Regions from separate parts of the Homo sapiens genome. Here region 2 is linked to region 1. Evidence: fine-mapped expression QTL. A gene starts in region 1. The other region holds a variant in brackets. All regions are shown on one strand. Distances are from middle to middle.

Region 1 (14,746 bases):
GCCATCTCATTTCGTCCTCCAAGATGAGGTCTGGTTAAATATTCTGCCACTGGTTTACTAGGAAATTCGGCTTCACAGACATAGGCAAAGTCCCTAGCCAAATGAACAGCTTCACCTAGAATAATCAGCAACAGCTTTTAGGATGGCTGTGGTCACTGAGGCCAAACTGCCCTTTTCCTCTCTCTTTTTTTTTTTTTTTGACACGGAGTCTCGCTCTGTTGCCCAGGCTGGAGTGCAGTGGCCCGATCTCTGCTCACTGCAACCTCCACCTCCGGAATTCAAGCAATTCTCGTGCCTCAGCCCCTGAATAGCTGGGATTACAGACATGCACCACCATACCCAGCTAATTTTTGTATTTTTAGTAGATACAGGGTTTTGCCACATTGGCCAGCTGGTCTTGAGCTCCTGGTCTCAACCAATGGCTCATGCCAGGGATTATAGACATGAGCCACAGCACCCAGCCCCCATTTTCTCTCTTTCTAGTAGTATTCATTGTCTACCAGTCATACGTTGCATGCAAGAACGAAATCATATACAGGGCAGACAACTCAGCTGGTAGGTAGAACTTTCTAGGGATTCTCAGTAGGTCCTCCACCCCAGGAATAGAGGGTGGAGATCACACAATGTGAGCAGAAAAGACCCTGAAACTTCTAACTGCACAATCAAGTCAGCCCTCTGTATCCGTGGGTTCAGAATCTGTATTCATCCAAACTCAGATTGAAAAGATTCGGGGGGGAAATAATGAATGGTTGTGTCTGTACTGAACACACACAGACTTTTGCCATTATTCCCTGAGCAATACAATGTAACAACTATTTACATAGCATTTACATAGTATTAGGTATTATAAGTAAGTGATGCAGAGATGATTTAAACTATACGGAAGGATGTGTGTAGGTTATATACAAATATAACATTTTGAACATCCTCAGGTTTTGGTATGGGACCTGGAACCAGTGCCCCATGGATACTGAGATGAGTAAACTTGAAAAATGTTTACCAGTCCTCTGCTCAACAGATAATCAAACATACCCATGTTTTCTCTTTATATTAAGTAGTATCATTTTGGGGAAGTAGGAAAATTTAAGGGCTATAAACATGTTTGACAAAAGCAAACTAGTCACTTCTCTATAAAATGGTGACATCTGACAGCTTACTTTTTTTTTAATAGTGCCTTTTTACTGAAGGGGCAGATCTCTAGAATGTTTCTTTTAAAAAAGATGGGAGGGATGTTTCTCCTAAAAACCAACTTGGAGCACCCTTTTCCCTGTCCAAGTCAGTGGAAGAGCTAAGGGAGGCAACCAAGAGAGTTTCTCCCACCCAAGAGGTACCTTCCCTGGCTCCAGGGTGCAGGACTGGTGAGCTTTGCAAAAACCCAGATGGTGGAGGGGCCCCCTGGGTTGACTGAAGCAGCCTTGGAGAGCCATTGTTCTGGAGCACACTTTCTTATTCAATCACCCTGCCTGGCTAGCAAGAAACCCCAGCAGAACCGCCGATTCTACAGGCAGGACAGCTGTTCTCAGACAGGCAGCTCCTTTCTCCTTGCCCTGACCTCCAAAGGCACTCGTAAAAGGTAAAGCAGGGACTCTGCCAAGTCTCTTTGAGCACCACGTCACGCCATCAGAGCAAGGAAAGAAAGTCTTCAAAAGAGGGTACTGCCACGGGGAGCCCGTTTCTCCTTGGCTTCCCCTGCCCATAGTGAGAGCCCTAAGCCTCTCTCAGCGTCCAACTCTTCCCGGGAGCAGTAACAACATGCTTTGTTTTGTTTTTAAAAAATTATTTTACTTTCCCTTCAGCTCCTTTTAAAGGTTGTGTTGCATTCTTGGCTACTGTCCAGGTTGGGGTAAAGGGGCCCCCCATTCAAGAAACTGAAATGCTATGTCCTACTATCTTAGCACTGGCAAGAGGAACTTGTGCGTGGGCCAGGGGTTCGATTAGTTTTTTTCTTTGGATGGGAGGGAAGAATAGAATTGTGAATCGGGCCAGTCGTATTGTATACAAGAGGTTCTCTTCACTGACCACAATCCCCAGCTACAAAATAACCCACAGCTACAAAAAACAGAAGCAGTACTTCTGCTCACCAGTAAGTAACCAGCTTTTACTCAAGGTGTACCAAATGATCAGCTGTTATCTTCCAAAAAAACTGGTTCATTTAACAGGAAATGCCGACACCCCTAGAGTGTGATTTCTTAGGTTAGGAAAACCAGTTTCTTTCCAACATTGATTCTCTGGGGGAATACAGAAGAGCCTACCTGAGCAACCAGATACTTAAATGTTAACTTATTCGATAAAATTAACTGTGATTCATTCCAATAAACTTAGAGAACAATTCCAATTGCTTTCATCTCTACTTGCAACCAAGTTTTAAGAGTTGTTTTCCAGTTTTTCTGCAATAAGTATTAAAGACACAGGCACAAATTAAAAACATCACGAACCAAAAACAAAACCCCACTGACCTTCTACTAAGGATGTCAGGAGAGTCACATGAGCGGCTTTCCGCCTCCCGGCCGGAAGATTCAACCCAATCTTGTCCAACTTCTCCCGCAAGGACCGGCCTCCATTTTTCGATTTGGCTCTAAGAAAAAGAAAAATTGACTCTGGCTACTCTCAAAAACAAAAACACATACACACGCACACTTTAAAAATTCTAAACTCCTAAAGTGCTGCTGTCAAAGCTGAAACCCATCAAAGACTATCTACATCACGTGAACCATAATGAAAAGTGATAGCAGGGTCCTCTTTCAATTAGTCCCCGTAAGATACAAAATCAATCTTTCCTAGCATCCAACTCTGCATCACCGAATATTTCAAATTGTATGGGAGCAGACAAATTTTCACTTGTGAAACTACAACGGCCCCACAAAAACTCCCTGGGGAACAAACCCAGGGTGCTCCCCCCACCTCCCCTCAATACAGATGCTATCACTTCATACATGGGATCAAATTCTAACCAAGTGAGAATTTGTGAGCGTCGTTTTAGCACTTCCTCCCACATTTGGCACTTTCTAAAGGAGAAGAAATGTACTAAAACTCTAACCCGATTAGAATTCAGTGTTAGGCATAAAGTCACATAAATGTTAAAAATACCTCCTGGGCCTCTGATACACTCACCTTCAACTACCCAACCACTATGCCTAGAATTGTGCCCCAAGTACCTTCTGAGAACACCTCCCAGTAACGAGGCATTTAAGCATTCAGGTGGGGACAGTCGCCTCTGTACTTCAGCCACTGTCACTTTGTATTTAGACGTAGAGCTGAGGAGCGACAATCTTCCAGGGACTGAGCAGAAGACCTCAGTGGGGTTCATTACGGCCCCCACCAGCTCCTTCTGACAGGGGAGGTTCAGAGGGTTCTTGGTCATGGAAATGGGACCTGTGAATGAAGGTCAGAGCTGGCAGTCACAAGAGCTCTCTCTGAGCAAAAGAGACCTTTTCAAAACCAATAACCAAAGCTGAAAGTGATCTTTAGACAAGCATCATTGCACACCCCACGATCAACTGCAGGCTGACTTTATTTAAAAAAAAAAAATAATAAGAGTCTCACTCTGTGGCCCAGGCTGGAGTGCAGTGGTGTGATCTCTGCTCACTGCAGCCTCAGCTTGCGGGCTCAAGTAATTCTCCAGCAGGTGCCCACCACTACATCCAGCTAATTTTTTGTATTTTTAGTAGAGATGGAGTTTCACCATGTTAGCCAGGCTGGTCTCAAACTCCTGACCTCAAGTGATCTGCCCACCTTGGCCTCCCAAAGTGCTGGGATTAGAGGTGTCAGCCACTGCACCTGGCCATGGCTGACTTTTTAAAAAAGCCCCCTACTTCAGAGACAAATCTAATCTGAAATTCACAAGTTAACACCTTGGGAAGTTAATTAGTGAAGATCCAAAGCTTGGAGGGTTTCTTTTTTTTTTTTTCCTAGCAGCTGCTGAAAACTATTTAATTAGAACATTTGTTTTCAGAAGACTGCTTCAATACTAAATAAACGGTGAGTTTTTTCCCCTCAAGAACAACCAAAATCATAGGACACATTAAGATTCTTTCCAAAATTTTTCAGTGCAGTTGATCACAGTAAATTTAATCATCCAAACTAATACGTTCTAAGTTTACTGAAAATTTGTAGTCTTTTCTGAGTTTTTCTTTAAAATCCATTTTTCCTCCATCCTCAATCCATTTAAGCAGTTCAAGTAACAGGCCAAAACTACCTTCAATTTAGGCCTACTCTATTTCCCAAAACAGTCAAAATGGTAATCCTGGTAATCCTGTCAGTTAAGTAACTTAATTTCATAAACCACTCACTCACCAAGTAATCCAATTTTCCAAATCCCCTCCTCCCCATCCTGCAAAACTCTCCCTCTGACAGATCATTCCAAGCTCTGTTCCTTTTACAGGTATTCATTTGGTAGGCCAAATTGCTTCAAAACTTTTCTTGCAGGTCAGAATTAAGGAGGTTTTCCATACACGTGTTTGAAATCAAAAATAAAATCACAACTTATTCAACAATTAAAATTGTTACAGAACCAACCACTCAACGAAGGTGTGCCTGTGACTTTTTTCTTGTTGTTTTTCAAGTTAAATCAGTGTTCACTCGCTCTGGAAGACTTTCTCTCACATTGTGAAACACCCACTGGAATTCATGGACATTTTTCCAAGAAAAAAAACTAGGCAGTAACAACTCCGGAGATGAAGAGACAGCTCCTAGGAGGTCGGAGGGAAATCCCTTTCTGTCACTCCTAAAATCTAGCTTCCATGAATCCCTTTCAGTCCCTTCTACCACAAATGTCCCACGCTGGCCACCAAATACCCCCAACCTTGCCAGTCAACTTCACAAGCCCAGATCGTGTGACCAGAGTTAGACGATGCCACCTTGCTATTTACCTTTGCGAATGACTGTCTGATCGTGCAGCAACAGGTGCTGGTCGTCGACATTCTGGGGGAGAGAGGACAAAATTCCCTTAAGTTCGGGGGAGCCTAGAGGAGTGCGGGGTGGGGGCAGAAGGCCGTAGGGTGAACAGGTCCGGTCAGGAGCCGCAGCGCCGCTCACCTGCACCTCGTCCATCTGGTGAGGCATGTCGTGGAGCCCCAGGTTCTCGGCCAGGCCCGCGGCATCCAGGGCGTGTGCGTGGGGCAGCAGCAGGTCGGAGCGGCGGTAGGCATCCCTGCGGGCGCTCACCGCGCCCGCCTCCAGCCCGGAGAGGTGGGGCAGTAGGCCGGCCGGGCGCCCGTGGTGCGAGGGCAGCCCCGCTCCCTCCTGGCTCTGGCGGCCGGGCCAGGCCTGCTGCTGGCTGCCTGTGGGCGCCGGCTGGTGCAGGGGGTTGATGGCGGCGGCGTACGCTTCCCCCAGATGCGAGTAGGGGTCGGCCGACTGGGAGTAGGCCAGCTGCTGGTAGGGAGGGGGAAAGTAGGGTGGCGGCTGATATTCGGCGACTCCAGTGTGGGAGAGGGGTGGCGCGGGGCTGTAGAGGTGCTGCCCGGCGGAGGAGAGGTGGGGGACCCGCGGATTCCCATTGCTGCTCCCGTCGTGGCGATCCTGGAGGGAAAAAAAAAAACAGGAGACCCCGTTAGTGCGAAACCCCGCTACTGCGAACTGGCCGGCATCGCCGGGCTACGCAGAGGGCCCCGGGGGACCAACCGCACCCCGCCCGGCGGGGCTTGCCCAGGGTCGGAAGGTACCCGGGGGCAATGCGCCCCGAGGATTTCGTTGTAAGCAAAGAGTGCGGGGAGGGAGGAGAGTCTGGTGAAAGACCTGGGGGAACGAGTTCTCAAAGCCCGGCGGCGAAGGTCTAGGCGCTGCTCCCAAGCCCGAGGCGCTTGGAGGCGCCAAGTCCGAACCCTGGGTCTTGGGCCAGAAAAGTCCGTGGCCGGAGCCCGGGGCGAAGGAGCCAGAGCCCGGGGCGAAGGAGCCGGACGCCCGGTGCAGAGCTATCTCGTGGAGCCCGCCCATGACGCAGGGACTGCTGGAGGTGGCAGCGCGGCAGGCGCGGATAGAGTGCGCGGCGCGGGAAATGCGCACCTCCCCCGCCCCCGGGACCCTCCCTTCCACGCCCTCGGGACAAAGACCTCCGAGCGGGCGGCGCTCGGAAAGCAGGGCCCGCCACCCTGCGCCGCCCTGGGAAGTGAAGAGGGAGCGCGCGCACAGGGCGGCCCTCCCTGCTGGCCGGGCCCAGCCGAGGGGAGTAATAAGTGGGGGCGCCCTGCACTGCCAAGGGCAGTGTTCTCGCACGTCGGGGCGCAGAGGGGGCATGAAGAACCCTGGAAATTGGGCAGCCTTGCCCGCGCACGTTCCCTCGCCCCTGGGCGGCCCGACTCAGTTTCTAAAGGATGCGTCCCCATCTGCCCAGGGGTCTCGGGGCGCCGGGAACCTGGAGGAACATGGCGCTGTCGCCTCCTGGCGGAAGCGCCCGGGCCTGCGGGCAGGGGCAGCCCTCCAGGGCCCGGAGGCGCAGTGAACTCCCGCGAGTCCGTAGCCCGAGCTCCGCGCTCCCGGCGCCCCTGAGCTCGCCTAGCGCTGCCTGCGTCTTCTTCCTCTTCCCGCTCGCCGCCTCCTTCTTCCCTCCCACTCTCCGAAACTCTAGCTCAACCTGTCCGACAGGCTGGAGCACTCGCGAGCTCTTACGGCCCCATCTGGCCTCGGGCACCCCCACCACCACTCCCCAGCCCCCACTTCTTTTGAAAGCCAAACTTCGGTTGTTTTCGTGCTTCCCCGAGGAGGTAGCGGGGCAGGTGACAAGCCGGCCTTGGAGGAGTGTCCGCCAAGGTGTCGCTAGCAGGTAGCCTCATCTGACCCCTTTGGACAGAGACTTCGTGCGTAAAAGCCACGTCTGAGGGTTGCAGACGGGGCACTTTTCCGAGAAAACGGGAAGCAGGGCTGTTTGCCGCTTAGGAAAGCGCCCGGTAAGCTGTGTGGGTGGGATTTGCCATTCTCTTTCCAGGCCTCGTTCCCGAGGGGAGGCTATTTAGGAAAAGGCCCTATACAGGAAAGGGGCCCCGCAGAAATGGACTAAGGGGTGTCCGGAGAAGTGGATCCCGTCCCACCGAGAGGCCAGGGCTCCTATGCCCTCGTCCCCGACCTCGGTCCAGTGGCCCCTGCCTCCCGGACTGTCCTCGGCGGGGCGGGGCTGCACCCCGGAGCCCCAGCTCACCTCGCAGTCCTCTTCGTACTTGACATTATCGGTTATTTTCCACAACATGGCGTCCGGCGTCCCCCAAAACAGTCGCCAGTTAAATCCAGGATCCCCCCAGCCCCCAAGCGGTAAATCCAAAATCGGGGTCACGGTGACCAGGCGTCTGCCGCCGCCCCCGCCGCGCGCGGGCCTTGCTGTCCGGGTCACTGGACACGCATCGGCGGCTCTGCGAGCGTAGATGCTGCCGCCGCGAGTGTCAAGACCGCTCCGCGGACGGGGAAAGCCGCGCCCGAACAGTGTGTCCTGGCGATAGCCGGGGGACCCGAGCGCCTTAATGAGAAGGAAATTATCATAACTCCTCCCCGGGGGCCGGCGCGGAGGCCCAGGCGCCGGGCGGGGCGGCCCCCAGCCAGTCCCAGCCTAGCTCCGCCCCGCACCCGGGCCTGGCGCAGCGCCGAGCCCCACGCTGTGAGGGACGAAGCGCGGAGTCAGTGGGCGGTGCCTCGTTGACAGCCGAAGACCTGCGAGGCCTGGGTCCCCCGACGCGCCTTCCTTCTGTCACCTCCACCGTAAACACACCTGAGATTGGCAGAGCTGGGGGAAGGGATCCAAATACTGAAACCCACCCCTCTTTCGCCTAAACGGCCTTCACTCGTTCCTCCAAAAGACGGATGTCACCTGGAGTTAAGAAACTGCGCATTTGGGGAGCGACTCAACAACCGGGGTCTCCTCATCTCCTAAAAACACATCCCATCCCACCTACACCCCACTGAGGCTTAAGGTCTGAGCTGGGATCATGCAGCTGGAGCCCCAGTGCGCCAGAGACGCCCAGTTCCCTCCGTGGGCACAGCGCGGTCCCGGCCCCCGGGCGGGAGGAGAGAGGAAGGGACTCCTGGGGAGTCTGCCCCAAGGGCCGCAGAGGCAGCAGACGGTCCTACCCGCCCAGGAGTTGCGGACAGCGGCGTCTCGCCGCTGTCGCCCGAAGTGGCATCTCCCGCGGCTGGCTGAGGCCAGGGGGAACCCGCGCGCACTGGACCAGCCCAGCGGCCCGGCCCTGCCCTGCCCTGCGGAACGCCGGCTCTGCAGCTGCCTCTGGCGGGCCGGTCACTCAGAAGCCTCTACTCGCCCTGGGAAAGAAGCGCCGGGCAGGAATAAAACCCGAGCGCCACGGGTAAGGTGAGGGTGAGGAGGTGCAGGAAGTTGGGAGAGAGCCTGCAGAGAGCTCTCGACTGGAGAGGTAGACACCCAGGTCCCACATGTTTAGACAGAAAACGAAACTTCCTTCCACACAAACGCTGCTTCCCTCTCCCCTTCGGTACTTGCCACCCAAACTTGAAAGCAAAGTGCAATACTAATTTTTAAAATTTAAACTAACGAAATTCTTTGGCCCAGTTATTATGCAGCAATTGACTTTCATTGTAAGGGGAACATCGCTAATTCTCGAGGGCGTATTTGTTGGGACGCCCCAACTGGCTCCCTGGGCTGGATTTAAACATTCTGTGGGGATTAGAGGACAAGACTATTTCTATTTGATACTGAATACGATTTTGCAATAATCAATGCCTATCAGTACGGTGTCCGCACCTGCAGTAGACATGACTCTCCCATCCACGGAATGGCGGCATCCACTGCCTCGCTGTTCCTTCTCGGGTTCGTTTGAACTTTAGCATTTATTTAGACCCAGGTGGGCCTAAAAGAAAATAATAATAATAGGCGTCCTCCAAGGGAAACTTTCCCCCGGCCTTAGACAGCAGCCAAATCCCAGGTGATTTTCCGACCGGACGCGGGAACAAAATCTGGAAGTTGAAACCACTGAGACTTTTCGGCCAAGCATATCTGCAGGGCTTTGCACTAAGGAGAACAGTGCATAAAAAGACACACAGGACCCTGACACTTCGGTCCCAAAACAGGCTTCTGGGGGTAAAATAAGTTACCGCAGAAGCAGCGCTCCTGGTATTAGCGGCGGGGGAGGGGGACACCTGCCAGAAGCAGAAATTAGACCCAGGCCCGCAGGCACTCCAGAGCACAGGTCCAGGAAGATGGGTCCTAGACTCGCCAGAGGTGCGGCGCCTCTTTCGGGCGCCTGGGACTCCCTGACGGGTGCCGCTGGGCTGTCCGACATTCTGGGCCTTCTAGCCCTCGGTTTTATTCTCTGACCCGGCCTGAGGTGCAGCTTGAACAAGCTGTCTTGTCTGTGCTGGCAAGTTTACCTCCTGCACGCTGGGGCCCGGAATGGGCAAGAAGGTGCTCATCCCCCATCCCAGGCCCTGGCTCTCCTTTCCCACAGCAACACTAGCCAAAGCTGCCCGGAGGAACCGATATGCCTCCCCGCCTGGGAGCGTCTACGCAGGAGGCGAAGGGAGCCGATGGGCACTGAGGGCTCGCGCAGCACCGTGCCGTGGGCCCAAAGGACCCAGAGGATCCGGAACCGCTTGGCAAAGGCCATTCATTCCCAAGGAGCTTCCCTGGACCCCGGCGCTGCCCTCTTTCCAATGGGTAAGCGTTCGAACTGGAGCGCAACCTCCGCGCCCTCTGTACGGAAGGCAGCTAGAACAAATCCTCTGTCTTCTCGGCACGGGAGACCCTTCCCCAATACGCACATTCTCGGCTTCTGGGCCGGCACCCAGGCACGCGCGCGCCCTTGTGAGGAAGCCTCAACCCTTCCTTGACTTCAACTTTTCTGCTCAGCAGAGCCGGGAACCGAAGGCTCCAGCATCCAAGACAGCCTCCCTCCAACGTCCCCGCCCCTTGCCCACGTGAAGACGCGGACTGCGTGGCCGCGCTCAAGACAGCCGGCACCGGCAGAAGGGGACCCCTCTGGAACCCCGGAGGCCTCGCAGCCGCCTGGAGAAGAGGATGGAAGGTTGTCGGGGGTTCCCCTCTACCGCCCCCTAGGGAGCCTAAACTCACTTACTCCCTGGAAGCCCTGGACCCACGCCCCTATGAAACCGCAAACCAGGCCTCTGCAACAGCGGGAGCGCCCCAACAGCGCGCCACTTCCAAAGAGGCGCGAGGTGGTGCCTTTGGAAACAGGGCTCCCGGCCCCAGGCCTGAGTCATCCGCCACCCCTGCCCCCACCCCAGACGGAAGAAGGCGGCCAGGCGGGTAGAGCAAGATTCGGGCAGATCTGCGACTCCTCTTCCCGCCCCAGGGAGGGGACTCCCGAGCAGAAGATGGAGGCCCCCGAGCGCTTTCGCAGACTCCGCGCCACGCGCCGGACGTTTGTCCCGCCTCTCGGGACAACGTGAGCGCCGGTAGGGACCTCAGTAAGTGGCAGACCCGCCAGGATCAAGCAAGGTGGAAAGGCCGGGGCCTGCGGCAAACCCAGGAGGAGGGGGCATTCACGCCCGCCACCCTCCCTTCGCGGCACTGGCACCCACTGGACCGACACTGGCGTCAAAGGGCACCCTGAAGTATCTATGTCCAGTAAGGGCATGCCCTGGGGCACCACAGACATCAAGTCACAGCCACTCCAAAATAATTACAAAAATGATTATCGTAAATAACAGATTGCTTTAATAGGGCGCGAAGCGGCCGCCGCATACAGACGCCTCTGGTCTCAGTCCCACCAGATTCAGTTCACTGCTCGCTTCTTTGCGCTCCGCGTCAGGCCGCATGCTCTTCGTTTAGAACCTTTTGAGCCTTAACTCTTCCTCTCAAACAACTCCTTTTTTCAAACAGGCAAAGTGAGGCGAGGAGCTGAGGGGCTCACAGGTTCCCAAGCTTCCGAGGAGGGCCCGGGTCCACGTCAGTCCCGGCCCGCCAAACGAGACTTCGTGGGCACAGTCTCTAACCTGACAACCACCTGTCCCATTTCACAGCAGGCAAAAGTGAATTTTTAGTCGCCCAACTACCTGAAAGCCACAAAGGTGCCTAGGGTTGAAGGCCACTTTCCTAGCGGTTCTACTAGGGAGCCCGTTAGAGACATGCCTGACTCTCCCCCTGCCCTGCCCCGGGGGGGACCCCCGCCCGCCGGAGGCCTCACACGCTTGGCCGTGGGATGGTAGACTCCTGTCACCTCTCCACTAACATCCCGGAGCCCATCCGTACGCACCCTAACCGCTCGGAGCGCAGGCCCGAGGACTAAGGCGGTAGCCTCGTGTCCCCTGAGGCCTTCTCCGCTCCGTGTTCTGGGTCGCCATACACTTCCCGGCTAAGCCCGGCGCCTTTAACTCAGAACTTGGTCGCCTCCAGGCGTGGAGCAGGCCACTGTTGCCAGACGCTGCGCGGACCCGTCTTCCTGCGCCAGTACTGGGCGACAGGCAGCCCGGGCAGCACCCAGGAGCCACCCTGCACGGCCCCAGGCGCCCGTCCCACCCAGCGCCACCCCTCGCCCTTCGCAGCGAGTCCTCCCGCAGCCTCTCCTCTCTGCTAGCCCCCGGGGTCGCACCTGCCCTCCACACAGACACCTCTTTTCTCACCCGTAGGAACTGGAAGCTCATGGTGCCAGCTCTCCAACCCTCTGTGAGTTGAGGAGTTTAAGAGTAGGAGAGACGTAGAAAAAGAGTTCCCCGAGGGCCGAGTCGTGTGCGGTAAACACACGCTTCCAGCGTTTATTTAATTAACGGGAGGGGGAGGGGAAGGGGGGAAATTCACAGCCAAAACGAGCTATCGCGATTGGAAGACTGGCAGGAAAGGTCCTGGTTACTCCTCCCCTGCCCTCCTCCCCTTGGAAACTATAAACTCTGCATTTGAAAAGGGTATACCCTAGGGTTTTAAATTATCTTTACATATGTATATGACAAGCGGTACGTAGGACTTCTTCAGTCAGAAATTATTTTAAATGTAGCCTACCTCTTACTGGCAAGGGATTTTTTTTTTTAGTTGGTTAGTTTCTAAGACCAAAAGTATTAACATTTCTGGGAATTCTCAGCCTTCATGTCACATCACAGGTTTCCGGGTTCAGCTGAAATTGAACCAGGGGTAGTGAATTCTTGGGGTAGGGGAAGAAAGGGAGTGGGGTTTGGGGTCTTCCTTAAGTGCCAGAGAGATTGGTTTGCACATTACATGCTAATTTGCCTTAAAGAAAGGGGCAAAGTACATGGAAGGAAGGAAGGAAGAAAGGAAGGTAGGCAGGCAAGCAAAAACCAAGAGCCCAGTAAAATAGAATAAGAAGACTGTAAACACAGAAATAAATGCTGATGGTTGACTCTACCATCAGTTTAAACATCCCGGGACCCACTGTGATCACCCAGGCCAGGCAGGAGAAATCAGACTTGTACAGAAGCTGCTTCTCATCATCTGAGTTCTTGCTGGTTTTCACACAAAACCTGCCCAGGCAACCCAAACAGCTTCCTTCCAAGAGAGGTGAGTTGAAAACTTATCCAAGATTGCTCTACATATGCCTTAGAAGAAATAAAAAAGCAGCAGCAGGCAAGCAGAGTTCCACCCACCTGCTGGTAACCTCTCCCAGAGTTTACCAGTGCCCCAGTAGCCTTCAAAGGCAGTGTTTTGTTTTATTTTATTTTATTTATTTATTTATTTATTTATTTATTTATTTATTTTTTGAGATGGAGTCTCGCTCTTGTTGCCCAGGCTGGAGTGCAATGGCGCGATCTTGGCTCACCGTAACCTCCGCCTCCGGGGGTTCAAGCGATTCTCCTGCTTCAGCCTCCAGAGTAACTGGGATTACAGGCATACACCACCACGCCCGAGCCCGGCTAATTTTTGTATTTTTACTAGAGATGGGGTTTCTCCGTGTTGGTCAGGCTGGTCTCCAACTCCCGACCTCAGGTGATCCGCCTGCCTCGGCCTCCCAAAGTGCTGGGATTACAGGCGTGAGCCACCGCGCCCAGCAAAGGCAGTGTTTTAAATGCACAAAGAGGCTGGGCGTGTGACTCACGCCTGTAATCCTAACACTTTGGGAGGCCGAGGCAGGCGGATTACCTGAGGTCGGGAGTTCAAGACCAGCCTGGCCAACATGGTGAAATGTCTCTACTGTCTCTACTAAAAATACAAAAAATTAGCCGGGTGCCTTGGCGCGCACCTGTAATCCCAGCTACTCTGCAGTGGCACGTGCCTGTGATCCCAGCTACTCGGGAGGCTGAGGCAGGAGAATCGCTTGAACCCAGGAGGCAGAGTTTGCAGTGAGCCAAGATCATCCCATTGCACTCCAGCCTGGGTGACAGAGCTAGACTCGGTCTCAAAAAAAAAAGAATGGAATGTGCATTTTTATGCTGCACAAAACAAAAAGTGACTTCAGCACAGCGACACTTTCATGGAAAAAGGGTTTAAACATTCATCCCTGGCTACTTCTTGGGCCAAAAAATAGGCAGAATACAAAAATGCAGGGAAAATAAATCTTCATTGGAGGCCTGACTAGGATTTTGATCACTAAGAGCGACACATGCCATTCTGTATGTCCCTGCTACAGGAGTAACTGAAAGGTACACCCAGGCAGGAGGATGGGGTTGGGGGAGGGGAGGTGTAGAGAGAAAGCCAACTTTTTACTTATTTACGGTTGGGTTTTGGTTTTTGTTTTTTCTTATTGCGGGGGTTGCAATTAATATATCCTGTTATAATTATTTCTCAAAATAAGCACAATGATCACTGTTAACATCCTGATTTTATTTAAAAATTTAATCCAGAAAGGAAGATTTTTATTGTTGTTGTAGTTACATGTGATACAATCACAGCAGCAGCAATAAAGAAACATGTAACACAGTGGGCCGGGTGCGGTGGCTCACGCCTGTAATCCCAGCACTTTCGGAGGCCGAGGTGGGTGGATCACGAGGTCAGGAGATCGAGACCATCCTGGCTAACACGGCGAAACCCTGTCTCTACTAAAAATACAAAAAAATTAGCCGGTTGTGGTGGTGGGTGCCTGTGGTCCCAGCTACTCGGGAGGCTGAGGCAGGAGAATGGCATGAACCCAGGAGGCAGAGCTTGCAGTGAGCCGAGATGGCGACACTGCACTCCAGCCTGGGTGACAGAGCGAGACCCCATCTCAAAAAAAAAAGAAGAAAAAAAAAACATGTAACACAGTATCAACTTTTTTTTTTTCTTTTTTGAGACAGAGTCTCAGTCTGTTACCCAGGCTGGAGTGCAGTGGTGCCATCTCAGCTCACTGCAATCTCCGCCTCCTGGGTTCACGCAATTCTCCACCCTCAGCCTCCTGAGTAGCTGGGACTATAGGAACCCGCCACCACAACTGGCTAATTTTTGTATTGTTAGTAGAGATGGGGTTTCACCATGTTGGCCAGGCTAGTCTCAAACTCCTGACCTCAAAGTGATTCACCCACCTCGGCTTCCCAAAGTGCTGGGATTACAGGCGTGAGCCACTGCTCCTGGCCAATATCTACTTTTACAATTTAAAAAACCAAAGGATGCCATAACCATTGTTAATGCCCAAATATATTACCTGTCTTCAGAAACTGGAGCACCTTTTCCTGTCACAATACATGAGGATGAAAAATTGGCACTTCGACAAGGTTCCAACCTCCCCAGGGTCCCTTTCCTCGAGATAACACCCACTGGAAGGGTCTGCAAGGAAGCTGGAGCAACACCTTTTTGGGACAGTTCTTTCTCCTTTGTCCACTTTTTAAACTCCCATGAGCCAGACTGTGGTATCTTAACTTTCTCTCCCTCATCTTCCTCACGTGGCACACAAACATGGGCTTCCCTAGACCCAGT
Region 2 (14,746 bases), 160 kb before region 1:
GCAGAAGTTATCCTTGACCCCTCTCTCTTCCTCACACTCCAGATCAAATCCATCATCTCCAAAATACCCCTTACATGTGTTTTTCTTTCTCCATCTGGCCCTTCAGTCCCTAAACAAAGACACAGACACCAGCATTTCATCTGATAGCTTCAGCAACCTCTTAATAGATCGCCCTCACCCATGTTGCCCCCTCCTGTAAATTCTATACTTTGTGGCCCTTGAGATTGTTATAAAGAACAAATCAAATTCCGGTACTTTCCTTCATAAAGTCCTTTAGCAGCTCCAGTCCCCTTAGCATGGCTTCATGCCTGTGAGATTTGCCTCAGCCCATGCCAGGACCCCGGGCTCCTTACAATCCATCCATGTGAGTCTGCTTTCAATTTCTCAGACTCATGTAGTGAATTGAATAATGTCCCCAAAAACATATGTCCAAGTCCTAACCCCCCATACTTGTGAATGAAACAATACTTGGAAAAAGGGTCTTGGCAGGAGTAATTCAGTTAAAGACCTTGATACAAGATCATCCTGGATTTAGGATGGGCCCTAAATCCAATGACTTGTGTCTTTTTTTTTTTTTTTTTTTTTTTTTTTTTTTTTTTTTTTGAGACAGAATTTCGCTCTCTCACCCAAGCTGGAGTACAGTGGCACAATCTCGGCTCACTGTAACCTCCGCCTTCCACTTTCAAGCGATTCTCCTGCCTCGGTCTCCTGAGTAGCTGGGATTACAGGTGCCCGCCACCAGGCCTGGCTAATTTTTATATTTCTAGTAGAAACAGGGTTTCACCATGTTGGCCAGGCTGGTCTCGAACTCCTGACCTCATCTGCCCACCTCGGCCTCCCAAAGTATTGGGATTACAGGCGTGAGCCACCGCGTCTGGCCGACTTGTGTCTTTTTGAAAGAAAGAAAAAGGAGGTTTGAGGCACCGGGACACAGGGGAGAAGGCCGTGTGAAAAAGGAAGAGACTGGAGTAAGGCGTCTTCAAACCATGGAACGCCAAGGGTTGCTGACAACCATCAGAAGCTGGAAGAGGCAAGGAAGGATCTTTCCCCTAGAGCCTCCAGGAGGAACATGGCTTTGCTGACACCTGGATTTCAGACTTCTGGCCTCCAGCACTGTGAGAGAATCAATATCTGTTGTTTTAAGCCACTAAGTTCATGGAAATTTGTTGTAACAGCTCAGGAAACCACTGTGGCATGTTAAGCCTCATCCCAGGGCCTTTGCCCTGGCTCTTCCCGTGGCCTGAAACGCACCTTCTGGGCCTGCTCACCTGTCTGGCCCCTATTTTCCTTCCTGCATGAGCTCATTTCATTGCAGCTTCAGGGAAGCCTCTTCTAACTTCCCTAAGGAGAATCCCTTTCATAGACTCTCTGGCACCATTTCTTCTCTTCTTTCCCCCAGCTTTATTAAGGCATAATGGACAAATACAAAATTATATCTATTTCATTTCTTCTCTTTCACAAGGCTTATGAGAGTTGCAATTTTTCATTTATCTATATCTGTGATTAATGCCTTTGTCTGTCTCCCAAGCTGAACTGCAGTTCCTAAGGGGGCAAGGATGGCAGCAACCTCCTGTTCACCTCTGAATTTCCACCACCAGCCCACAATGGATACCCAATAAATATGCAGAAAGCCAATGCTTGATGTCACTCACATTTTCCATTTTAAGTGAAAATTACAAATCACATGTGAAATAACTGGATCAATTAATAAAAAGAAATAAGAAAACCTAAAAGTCCCACCTGGCAGGCAGAAGCCAGAGATGAGGTGGGTGGGGATCAGCCCTGGGTCCTGCGGATCCTCAATCCTCCCAGGGCACAGGGTGACGCAACAGAAGTAGCTTCCTTTCTGTGCAGTATCTCAGAACTGATCTGCATACAAGCTTCCTCTCCTTATCAATGCTGTGGCCAACAGAGGTGCAATTGAAACTCTGATGGACCCATTCCAGAAACCTGGGCGGCATAGAAAGCTTGCCAGAGCAAGGCTTGGCCACTGCTGGGGAGGCACCTGATTAAAGGAGGTTCTTGTCTGTCCTTCCCCTGGGAGTCAGAGGGGGTCCTGGGCCAGCCAAGGTCATGGTCCCTCAGTGCTCCGGGAAGAATTACTTGGCAGCAGTTAGTATAGACCAGAAATAGTTACTGAGGCCCTACTGGGTGCCAGGCACAATGCTAGGGGCTAGAGAAACAGGAGTGAACTCATGAACTAAACTCCCAGCCCCAAGAAGAAACAGATGCCTATTAATCGATTATACAAGCAAATTAATAAACTATAGGTTTTAGACAGGGCATGGTGGCTCACGCCTGTAATCCCAGCACTTTGGGAGGCCAAGGCAGGTGGATCACTTGAGGTCAGGAGTAAGAGACCAGTCTGGCCAACAGAATGAAACCCCGTCTCTACTAAAAATACAAAAATTAGCTGGGCATGATGGCATACGCCTGTAATCTCAGCTACTCAGGAGGCTGAGACACTCGAGAATCGCTTGAACCCGGGAGGCGGAGGTTGCAGTGAGCTGAGATTGTGCCACTGCACTCCAGCCTGGGCGACAAAGTGAGACTCCATCTCAAAAAAAAAAAAAAATTGAAAAAAAAAAAACTATAGGTGGTGATAAGGGTATGACAGAGAGGTACTATCTACAAGGAGAGCATGTAATAGGATTATCAGACCTGGTTTAGGGAATCAAGAGAGGCTTCCTGGAGGAAGTGACATTTAAACCAATACTTAATGGACAGCCATTCCCAACCCCATTCTCCTTTACTCATTCCTTCTATCAAGGCTGCAAGAATTAAACACTTTCCCAGCCTCCACTGCAGCTGGGGTTGCCATGAACAATTGTGACTAATGAGATGCAAGCTGAAGTCAGCTGGCTCCACTGTCCTTCTTCCTGCCTTAAATGGGAATGAGATAGCTGGAGCTGAGGCAGCCGTCTTGTGACCCTGAGGGAACAGCAAAGAGAATCGCAGAGATAGCAGCCCCAAGTCACAGAACCAATACTAGAAACCAGCCGCCTCCAGATTTTTTGTTATGGGAGAAAAATATGTCTGTTTTTGTTTAAACCACTATAATTTTAGCCAAAAGCATTCCTAAGTGAAACAGGTCTCAAAGATGAGTAAGTTAATGAAGGAAAGAGTGGCAGGAAGAGTTTTCCAAAGAGGGGAAACAGGCTGGGCATGGTGGCTCACACCTGTAATCCCAGCATTTTGGGAGGCCAAGGCAGGCAGATCACTTGAGGCCAGGAGTTGGAGACCAGCCTGGCCAACATGGCAAAACCCTGTCTCTACTAAAAATACAAAAATTAGCCGGGCGTGGTGGCGGGTGCCTGTAATCCCAGCTACTTGGGAGGTTGAGGCAGAGAACCACTTGAACCTGGGAGGTGAAGGCTGCAGTGAGCCGAGATCGCACCACTGTACTGCAGTCTGGGTGACAGAGTGAGACTCCATCTCAAAAAAAAAAAAAAAAAAAAAAATGGTCAGGCACGGTGGCTCACGCCTATACTCCCAGCACTTTGGGAGGCTGAGGTGGGTGGATTACGAGGTCAGGAGTTCGAGACCAGCCTAACCAACATGGAGAAACCCCGTCTCTACTAAAAATACAAAAATTAGCTGGGCATGATGGTGCGCCCCTGTAATCCCAACTACTGGGGAGGCTGAGGCAGGAGAATGGCTTGAACCCAGGAGGCGGAGGTTGCTGTGAGCTGAGATTGCACCACTGCACTCCAGCTTGAGTGACAGAGCAAGATTCTGTCTTAAAAAAAAAAAAAAAAAAAAGGGAGGAAACAGAATGTGCAAAGGCCCTGGAGTGGAAAAACCCAGTAGGGGACCCAGAGAAGGTCAGTGTGTGGTTGAAGCTTAAAGGGGAGCGGGGAGGGGCATGGGCCATGAGGCTGGCGAAATTGGAAGAGCTGATAGGAGACAGCGAATGGTGGGATGTTAGCCAAGAGCACCATGGAGACTAGAAGAGTTTCAGACAAAGGAGTGACGGGAGATCAGGTTTTCTTTCCAGAAAACATCTCCCTGGCAGGTTCTGGGGAATAGACTGGAAGAAATCAAGGGTGGGAACTGAGACACCAATGATAACCGTGGCTGAGGGAGGGATGCTGGGATGGTGGGAGAGGTGGTGGAAATAGAGAGATCCTTCCAACCAGAGGTTCCCAAGCAGGGCCGGTACTGCCCTTGACATTTGGCAACATCTGGAGACATTTTTGGTTGTCACACTCTCGGGGAGGGTGCTGCTGGCATCTTGCGGGTTGAGGCTGGAGGTGCTGCTCAACATCCTACAATGTACAAGAGATGTTCCCACCGCACCCCAGCAGAGAATCATCTGGCCCAAAATGCCCAGAGTGTTGAGATCATCATGGTCATGGCCCCTCAGCACTCCGGGAAGAATTAATGTGTTTATATTGTGGAAGAAAACTGGACACATGTTGGAAAGATGGGAGGCTAGAGAGAAAAGTTCCAAAACCGGGGCCAGTTAGGAGACGGTGACCCTAATCCCAGCAAGAATCAGCATGGGGTGCAGACCACAAGCTGAGGTCAGTAGGGCTGGACCGCCCTCCCCGAGGCTGAGAATTCAGATTTCTAATCAGAAAGCACCCACAGCTGGGCTTACTAAGGGTAGAACATAGCTGGGAATGATCTAGGCCACAGCAGTGTGTCTGCCCAGCCCTTGTCCTTAAAGAGGAGGGTCCCAACTGCCATCCTGGTTGTCCATGCCCCCACCCTGGCCAAAGCAGACTGGACAAAGGGTGGGCAACAGACTCAAAATGAGTGATCGGCTCTCTTTCCCATGGACGGGCGCTGACCCCTTCTTCCAGTCATGGCATCTGATTGTGCTCTGGGCAACTTCCAGCCCACCAAGACTCTCAGTTATGATGTCCTCCCTCTCCAAGGCATGGGCACTGGCCCCAAGTTCAGCCAGACTCTCTCCTTGGAACTTGAATTTTGAGCAGCCTCAGAACGGATGGGAAATGCTGATTTTCATCCCAGCGGAGGTGCCCTGCGGGACTGTTCTTTGTGCCTGCTCTCTAGAGCCACAGCTCCCTCTGGAACTCCCTTTTGGAGTTTCTGTTTTTAGTTGGAGTTAGAGGCTACTACAAGTTCTCTTAATAAATTTCTTTTTTCAGCCAGGCACGGTGGCTCATGCCTGTAATCCCAGCACTTTGGGAGGCTGAGGTAGGCAGATCAGGAGTTTAAGGTCAGGAGTTTGAGACCATCCTGGCCAACATGGTGAAACCTCGTCTCTACTAAAAATACAAAAATTAGCTGGGCGTGGTGGCATACACCTGTAGTCCCAGCTACTCAGGAGACCAAAGCAGGAGAATCGCTTGAACCTGGGAGGCAGAAGTAGCAGTGAGCCAAGATCATGCCACTGCACTCCAGCCTCAGCAACAGAGTGAGACTCTGTCTTAAAAAAAAAAAAAAATTCCTTTTTTGCTAGTGTATTGGTTTCCTATTGGTGTGGGAACAAATTACTACTAACTCTGTGGCTCAAAACAACACAAATGTATTCTCCTACAGTTCTGGAGGTCTGAAGGACAAAATCAACCTCACTAGACTCAAGTCAAACATCAGTAGGGCTGCGTTCTTGCTGAAAACAGTGGAGAGAATCTGTTTCCTTGCCTCTCCCGGCTTCCAAAGGCCGCCTGCTTTCCCTGGCTCCTGGCTCCTTCCTTGCCTCCAGCACATCTCCTACTCTGGACTGACCCTCCTGCCTCCCCTTCGCAAGGACCCTTGCGATTCCGTGGGCCCACCTTAATAATCCAGGATAATCTCCTCATCTCAAAATCCTTAACTTGACCATATCGGCAAAGTCCCTTTGTAAGGTAAGATTCACAGGTTCTAGGAATGAGATCATAGACATCTTTGGTGGGGGTGGGGGAGGCATTATTCAGCCTAGAAGAGTCCATTTCTGTTGCTTGCAACTAAAGAATTCTGATTGATATGTCAAAAGTCACAAACCCAACCCCAAACTCTAAAGATACTGCATTTTGGCTGAAAGCAGTGGCTCACAACTGTAATCCCAGCACTTTGGGAGGCTGAGATGGGCAGATTGCTTGAGCTCAGGAGTTTGAGACCAGCCTGGGCAACATGGTGAAACCGTCTCTACAAAAAATACAAAAATTAGCTGAGCTTGGTGGTTCATACCTGTGGTCCCAGCTACTCAAGAGGCTGAGGTGAGAGAATCACTTGAGCCCAGGTGACAAAGGCTGCTGTGAACCATGATCATGCCACTGCACTCCTGCCTGGGCAACAAAGTGAGACCCTTTCTCAAAAACAAAAAAAAAAATTATTTTTTATTTGAATTAGAAAGTCTTAGGAGTGGTTTGAACCCCACAGTTCACTGAAGCCCTGAGACTTATTTTTGCCTACCTACCTAGTTGTTTAAGTTACCTGCCTAGCACCTGAGAGCACATTGGTTGCCATCCTATAACAGGTGTGCAGCTACGGGTTCCAAAAATTAGCCCGATGTCACTACCCGAATGCTTTAGGACGTGGCAGATGGATGTAGTGGGATCAGTGCCCCTCCTGGCAGCTCCAGCCAGACCCTCAGCTGAGCTTTGTAGGGGCAGCTGTGTCTTAATGGGAGGATGAAGGAACAGGAACAGGTGGAAGGAAGGAAGGAAGGAAAGAAGGGAGGGAGGGAGGAAGGGTAGATGAATGGATGGGTGGACAGATGGATAGAGGAGGATGGATGGATAAGGGAATCGATGGATGGATAGACAGATGGATAGAAAGAAAAGATTATCCAGTATTTACCAGAATGAGGCCTCAGAAGTAACAAAGCTATGGAAGAAAAAGCAAATACGATGTGTTTATGTTATACGCAGGAGTAAAAGGAGGTGGCAACTTTGCTGGTTTGGTCTGTGATTGAAACAAAAATTCTCTTGAAAACAAACCTCCAGTCAGTTTTGCTTCTGCAAAGCGAACAGGCTTATAACCTCATTACAAAGATAGTCCATGTCACCCACTCTCAGCCTCCCGGGCCATTCAGAAGATTTGGTCCAATGAACAAAGAACCTAGATAGGAAAGCGGCAGCAGGAAGAGGACAGAACCAAACCCTCTCAAAAAGCTATAAAAAAAAGCTCCAAGTTCAGGGAGGAAAAGTAATCATCCTGTAATTTGCTGTTCACTAATGGAATCTATTAATTTATAGCCACAAAAGAATCAGCTAATTTGTGGTTAATGGTGTTTAAAAGATAAACAACATAGATTAAATCTATGGAGCCCAACCCAGGTTCACCAGAATCTGTCTGCACAGAAAGCTCTGGATGGGGGAGAGATGAGCCCAGCCCCAGGCTGCGGTGGACAGTGGCGCTCAGAGGTCTGCTGGGAGCAAAAAGAGATTTGGGTGAAACAGGTAAGCCCGTCCTCCAAGGTACCACATGTAGTCCCAGAGGAGGCTTATTTACTCCATAGGTTTCCTGTAAAATTGCAAATCCTCTCCTCCCTGACACAACACCATCCCTGCTCTCTCCTGCAGGGACCACCCCACCCCACTGCAGCAGTCTCCCTAACCTGCCACATTCCTTCCCACCTCTGGCCCTTGCACTTCCTGCACATGTAGCTGGACGGCCTTTTTTTTTTTTCTTTCTTTCCTGGGAAAAATAATCCAGATTATGGAGAGTTAACTTACTGAATGTCCCCTTGGAGAAGAGGCATTTCACATAACCACATCTCAGAGATTCCTGAACATCTCCCGTGAGACTGCTCCTATCCCATTCTCAGCCCCATTTTACTGGTCAGAAAACTGAGGGCTAGAAAGGTGAAGCAGCTGGCCCAAAGCTTCACTGTACATGTGGGGTGGGTCTGAGATTTGAATCCATGTCTTTCTGCTTCCAGAATCTGAGGGCTAGACCAGCATTTCCCAAAACTTACTTTTTTTTTTTTTTTTTTTTGAGATGGAGTCTTGCTCTGTCACCAAGGCTGGAGTGCAGGGTCGGGACCGCTGTTCACTGCAACCTCCGCCTCCTGGGTTCAAGTGATTCTCCTGCCTCAACCTCCCGAGTAGCTGAGATTACAGGCATGCGCCACCATGCCTGGCTAATGTTTGTATTTTTAGTAGAGATGGGGTTTCACCATGTTGGCCAGGCTGGTCTCGAACTCCTGACCTTAAGCAATCCGCCCGTCTTGACCTCCCAAAGTGCTGAGATTACAGCCGTGAGCAACTGCGCCCAGCCTTACTCATTCTCATAACAACATTTTTGCCATGTCTGCTACCACCTATATGTATGATATTTGTTTAAATGGACTCCCTGCCACTTTTATTTTTTGTTAATTTTAGTTTCATCCTGAACAATGTTATCCAGGTCTGATAAGTTAATAACATAGTTGCTTCTAACATAAACTTGGAATAAATACCTGACTACTAAGATAAACATGT[G/A]CCTGTGTCCTGCCTTATAATCTTATAAACCTCAGTGGTTCAAGAACTACACACATTTTAACCACACATCCCAAAAAGTCATAATCACACGGTGTGTGTCCCGCTCACCATAGCCTGCATGCACTATCAAGTTCTAGCCTCTGTCAACCTTCTCCTGATATAAGCCACCCTTGAAAATGCACTGGGCCAGGCGTGGCGGCTCACGCCTGTAATCCCAACACTTTGGGAGGCCAAGGCGGGCAAATCACGAGGTCAGGAGTTCGAGACCAGCCTGGCCAACATGGTGAAACCCCATCTCTACTAAAAATACAAAAAATTAGCTGGATGTGGTGGCAGACACCTGTAATCCCAGCTACTGGGGAGGCTGATGCAGGAGAATCACTTGAACCCAGAAGGCAAAGTTTGCAGTGAGCTGAGATCAGGCCACTGCATTCCAGCCCAGGTAACAGTGAAAGACTCTGTCTCAAAAAAAAAAAAAAGAAAGAAAGAAGAAAGAAGAAAGAAAAGAAAGAAAGGAAGGAAGGAAAGAAAGGAAGGAAAGAAAGAAAATGTATCAAAAGCCCTCCTTTTTCCTGAAGGCCTCTTGACTCCTCCAGCCCAAAAGCGCCCCTCCCTTTGTTGACAGCTAGAAAATTCATGCCATGAGCAAGCCACAAAAAGACAGGATAAAAAACAGGATGTGGCTTTTGTTTCTTCAAGTAGACTGGAAGATCTTGGAGGATTATAAAAAAAAATGAAAACAAAACAATTCCTATACCTTGAAGTCTAAGCTCTGGGAAACAGAGATGGACGCACACAGCAGGTGCTCAATAAAGCCTGGGGGAAATGATGGATGTGGACACAGTACAGAGAGGGGGCCAGGCAGCACTTTCATGGCTAGGTTGGGGCCGGCCTGAATCATCCTTCCTCCTTTGCTAACAAGGGTCAAAACTTCACCTGGGGATGCTCCCTCCCTTCCCACAGCCCAGGGCTCCAGGATGGGCCTGGGACACAGCCTGCCCAGTCCATGCAGAAAATCCCCCTAGCTATTCCCATTGGTTCAGAAAGCGGGTCTGTTACCCAAACCTGGCTGAGGGAGTCAGGCCCAGCATTTTTGTTCAAATGGATGAGGATGGAGCAGCTCTTTCTTGCCAGCTTGAACCTGGGAGCCGTGGGCCTGGAAACACTGTCACCTTCCTGCTCCCACAGGGAGCCTGGGAGTTAGAACCCTTGTGGAAGAGGCAGAGACATAAGAGAGGGCAGGGCTTGGCAATGTGATTTGAGATCCTGGATCAAGACATTCCTGAAACAAGTTCTACCCTTGGATTTTTTTAGACAAACTTTTTTTTCTTGGCGTAAGCCTTTTTGAGTTGGGTTTTCTGTTACTTAGGCCCAAAAACACCCTGGAGGAACCCCTGACTAGGAGCCAGGGAAGCAGACTCAATTGTATCTGGGGTCTAAATGACCCTGGGTGAGTCATTTCATCTCACATGACCCTGCCCCAAAGAGGCCTTCCCTGACCATTCTTTCAACAGCAGCTTCCATCCCTCCCTACCGCTCACTTCCTTGTCCAGCCCCATCATTGCACAATATCACATTCCATATTCATGACCTTGTTTGCTAGTACTCTGCCTCCCTCACTGCGGTGTCCTCAGAACTCAGAATAAGGCTGGCATGCAGACACCTTCTGTAAATATTTGTTGCAGGATCTTGCCTCGGTTTCTGCAGCTGTAAAATGGGAGAGCAGTGCTGCGTTGTCCTCAGTAGCCTGCCATCAGGGCTGCATTCACTTCCTCCTTTCATTGCTGCCACCCAGGCCTCCGGGAACGTGGCACAAGGTCTCACCCAAAGGCGCTGGAGTGCCTCCCAGAAAACTACCTTTCCCACAGAGTAGAAAGTTTTATGATTTTCCTCCATTTCTTCCTCTGCCTACACAATCTCATTGACTAGAAAGTCCCTCTTGATGTCTAACCCAATATTTCATGCTGCAACCAAAGTCTATTTATGTGCATCTTTTCTGAGTTCTGGAGTTCAGCAGCTGGAGTGCTGACTTCCAGACATTCCCAGCCAAGTAAGAACACAAAAGAACCAGTTTAAAGTGAGAAGAAATCCAGTGAGAAAATAAAAATTCCTTTACCTAGGAGATGCCCTCATTTCCTTCCCATGACCAGCTTCTGACTCGTCAGAAAGCTCTTTACTTGTCTCCACACCTATGAACACAGCTCTTCCAGAGATGTGGGTACAGAAGATGAGAGTAAAATAAATAAACTATCTGTTTAATCATTCTTATTGCCAAAACAACGGCTGAGCCAAAATACCGAGGCTCTGATTCATCCCAACTGACGTCCGTTCTAGGGAGGAGGCAGGAGGCAGGGAAGTAAGAATTTTTAAACCCGTTTTCCAGATGAATTCAGAGGAGGCTGGGACGTTCCACAGCGCCAACCCCACAGTAAGCAACAGAAGCGAACCACTTTCTCTTTGTGGTCGAGGATCTGTCTTCTCTTCATTTAAATAGGGCAGAATTCAGTGGCTCGCACCTGTAATCCCAGCACTTTGGGAGGCTGAGGCAGGTAGATCACTTGAGGTCAGGAGTTCGAGACCAGCCTGGCCAACATGGTGAAACCCTGTCTCTACTAAAAATACACAAAATTAGCCGGGTGTGGTAGTGGCGCCTGTAATCCCAGCTACGCAGGAGCCTGAGGCAGGAGAATCACTTGAACCAGAAGGTGCAAGTTGCAGTGAGCCGAGATTGCGCCACCGCGCTCCAGCCTGGGCGACAGAGCAAGATTCCATCTAAAAAATAAATAAATAAAAATAAAAATAGGCCGTCGTTGTGGCTCACGCCTGTAATCCCAGCACTTTGGGAGGCTGAGGCAGGTGGATCACCTGAGGTCAAGAGTTCAAGACCAGCCTGGCCAATATGGTGAAACCCCGTCTCTACAAAAAATACAAAAATTAGCCAGGCTCAGTGGCAGACACCTGTAGTCCCGGCTACTCAAGAGGCTGAGGCAGGAGAATCGCTTGAACGTGGGAGGTGGAGGTCACAGTGAGCTGACATTGCGCCACCACACTCCAGCTTGGGTGACAGAGGGAGACTCCATCTCAAAAATAATAATAACAATAAAAATAAAAATAAAAATAAATGGGGCAGAATTCAAAGGAAGATACACAGTACCTAGGATGCAGATTTCATCATTCATTCACTCACTCATTCATTCATTCAAGAAAATGAAAAGCCTCGACTGAGCACCTTCCCTGTGCCCCAAGCTGGCTGTCTTCCCAAGTCACCTTGCACCTTCCCCACCCCTCTGGGGGAGGAAAGTCAGGAATCATCCACCCATTGGCTGAGTCGGGAGGCTGAATGACGTAATTGTTGAAAACATTGTTCCTAGTCTGTTCTTTGTCTTTTAATTTTATTTGTGGTGTTTCTTGACGTCCAGGGATTGTTAATGTTCATATAGTCAAATCTTTATGTCTTTCCTTTGAGGACTCTGGCCTGAGATACCTAGAAAGGGCTCCATGGGGAGTAACATTTAGAGCCATATTTAAGGCCATACGTCATGAGCAGTCAGGGGGTCCAAGGAGGCGATCCTGGCTCATTCGTTCATTTTACAAATGAAGAAACTGAGGCTCCATGGTGAGTAGGCAGCCCTGCCAGAGTCCAGGATTCTACCCAGGGCTCTTTCTGCACATAATGAGTTGCTCAGAGACCCTTATAAAAGTTAAGAAAAGACAGAGGGCTCTCCACCTCCCAGGCTGCATTGCCGAGTGACTGACACAGCTTCTGTGAAGCCAGAGGCCATCTCATTCGCCCTATAAATTCCGTGTCATCTGCTTTGCTCTGAATATTCGTTCAACTGTCCCGCTGTGGCTATGGGCCCTCAAACCCATTCCCCTGAAGGCCCTTCTAGGCTTATGAAGGCAGACACCACCAGGGAAAACATGAAGAGTCAACATAAGCATCCAAAATTCCAGGGACTGTGCTCGCTCCGGCAGCACATACACTAAAATTGGAACGATACAGAGAAGATTAGCGTGTCCCCTGCACAAGGATGACATGCAAATTTGTGAAACGTTCCATAATTTTTTTAATAATAAAAATAAATTCCTGGAACAGTGAACTCATGGAAGCAGAAGGTAGAATGGTGATTGCCAGGGGGTGGTCAAAGGATACAAATTTTCCGTTAGAGAGGAGGAATAACTTCAAGTGATCTGTTGTACTACGTGGAGACTATAGTTAATAACAAGATTTTTTTTTTTTTTTTGAGACAGTTTCCCTCTGCCACCCAGGCTGGAGTGCAATGGCGCGATCTCGGCTCACTGCAATCTCCACCTCCTGGGTTCAGGTGATTCTCCTGCCTTAGCATCCTGAGTAGCTGGGATTACAGGCATGTGCCACCACACCCGGCTAATTTTGTATTTTTAGTAGAGATGGGGTTTCACCATGTTGGTCAGGCTGCTCTCGAACTCCTGACCTCAGATGATCTGCCGGCCTTGGCATCCCAAAGTGCTGGGATTACAGGTGTAAGCCACCGTGCTCAGCCAACAAGATATTCTTGAAAATCAGGAAAAGAGTAGATTTTAAGTGTTCTCACCACAAAGAATAAGTATATGAAGTAATGCATATGCTAATGAGCTTGAATTAGCCACACTACCAGGTATACACATTTCAAAACATTATGTTGTATACAATAAATAAATACAACTTGTATTCATTATAATTAATTTTTAAAACTCCTGGACACGAAAAACCATCACTAATACAATTAAAAGACATAAAACAATGAGGAAAAATATTCCCAACCTACATGACAAAGTATTTAGCCTCTTAAAATAGACAAAGCTCGTATAGAGTCATAAAAATGGCTAAAGAAAAATGACAGGCAAATCACAGAAATGGAAATAAAAGTGGGCAATGCATGCAGGAGAAATGTTTAGATTCATGAGGAATCAAGCAATGGAGGTGGAAATTGTAATTGTAATGACATCATTCCGTATCTCTTTCAGAGTAGCAATATTTGAAAAGAATGGTAACCCACGGTGTTAGCCAAATGGAGAAATGGTACCCTCACAACTGGAGGAAAGAAACAGATTCAACTGTTCTGAGTTTTGGAATACATATTAAAGTCCTTTAAAATGTGCATTTTTTTTATTCCTAAGGAATTATTTAGAAACTACGTATAAGGAAAGAAATGTATTTCCACATCATTTATATGGGAAATGTTGAAAGCAGCCTGTAGGCTCAGCACTAAAGAACTGGTGAAATATTCTCCAGTACAGACTTTGCTGTAATGATATGAAGCCATGGAAGTGACTGATGCTTCATAAAAGATGATGACAACATGCAGTTAAAAAAAAAAAAAAAGGTTAATAGGCTGGGAGCTGTGGCTCACGCCTGTAATCACAACACTTTGGGAGGCCAAGACGGGCAGATCGCTTGAGGTCAGGAGTTCGAGACCAGCCTGGCCAACATGGTGAAACCCCATCTCTACTGATAATACAAAAATTAGCCAGGAGTGGTGGCGCATGCCTGTAATCCCAGCAACTTGGGAGACTGAGACACTCGAGAATCACTTGAACCCGGGAGGTGGAGGTTGCAGTAAGTCAGGATTGCACCACTGCACTCCCACCTGGGCAAGAGAGCAAGACTCCATCTAAAAAAAAGTAAAATAAAATAAAATAAAAATCAGGTCACAAATCAATATGTATACATCATTCCATTTCTGAAACACACACACATACATGAGTACAAGTACACAGTAAAAAATCTGGAGGAAATATTCACCAAATTGTTAACAGTGGTTTACTTTGGAGGTAGAATTATTTATGTTTTTTTCCTCTGCATTTTCGTTAATGTATCCCAGGACTGGAGAAGATGAGGAGGGGCTGGGGAGACAGACTCACATTCTTGTTGGAAATGTTATTTGTCATAAACTTTCTAGGCAAATATGATGGCATTTATCAAAAGTCTTAATATGTGTGAATCATTTCACCAGTAATTTTACTTCTAGGAATTTACCCTAAGGAAATAATCAGAGATGTGTGCAAAGACTTATATACCAGGATATCCATTGTACAGTTATTTACAAGAGCAAAAAGTTGGAGCCAGCCTAAATATCCAACAATAGAGAATTGTTTAAATAACTGTCGGTTTGCGTTTACAATGAAGTGCGATGCAGTCATTTCAGGTGATGTTGCATATTAGATGTCATGACAAAACATTCTTGATATAAAGAAAAAAACAGTTTAAAATGGCAATATGATAGGAATATTGTAAAATACTATACCCAATAAATTATGAATTCTTATGTACAAAAGGCTGAAAGGTAGATGTTTGCTGTGATAAGCACTGAGTGATAGGATTCTAGGTCATTTTTATTTTTTCTTTGTGT

Direction of the effects. Alleles are on the strand shown, and positions count from the first base shown. SD is a standard deviation of normalised expression in the study named.
For the expression in sigmoid colon of the gene that starts at base 7,419 in region 1, allele A in region 2 goes with a lower level than allele G (small effect, 0.37 SD a copy in GTEx).

Evidence for each region.
Region 2: its variant is fine-mapped to the expression of TFAP2C in sigmoid colon (GTEx, PIP above 0.99). The same link has a PIP of 0.9 or more in transverse colon.

The regions. Positions count from the first base shown.
Region 1 is chr20:56,621,979-56,636,724 of GRCh38, reverse strand. It overlaps TFAP2C (transcription factor AP-2 gamma), which reads right to left and starts at 7,419. Exons shown (of 7, transcript NM_003222.4): 1 at 7,133-7,419; 2 at 5,035-5,520; 3 at 4,869-4,920; 4 at 3,156-3,372; 5 at 2,457-2,575; 6 at 1-115. The coding sequence starts at 7,180. RefSeq lists silencers at 7,098-7,392, 7,449-7,508 and enhancers at 8,872-9,632, 11,157-11,919.
Region 2 is chr20:56,783,676-56,798,421 of GRCh38, reverse strand. It overlaps the pseudogene RNU6-929P. Among named protein-coding and RNA genes, the nearest start is that of TFAP2C, 160 kb to the right of the region's middle. RefSeq lists enhancers at 8,543-9,301, 9,302-10,061. The variant G/A (reference allele first, on the strand shown) is at 8,376.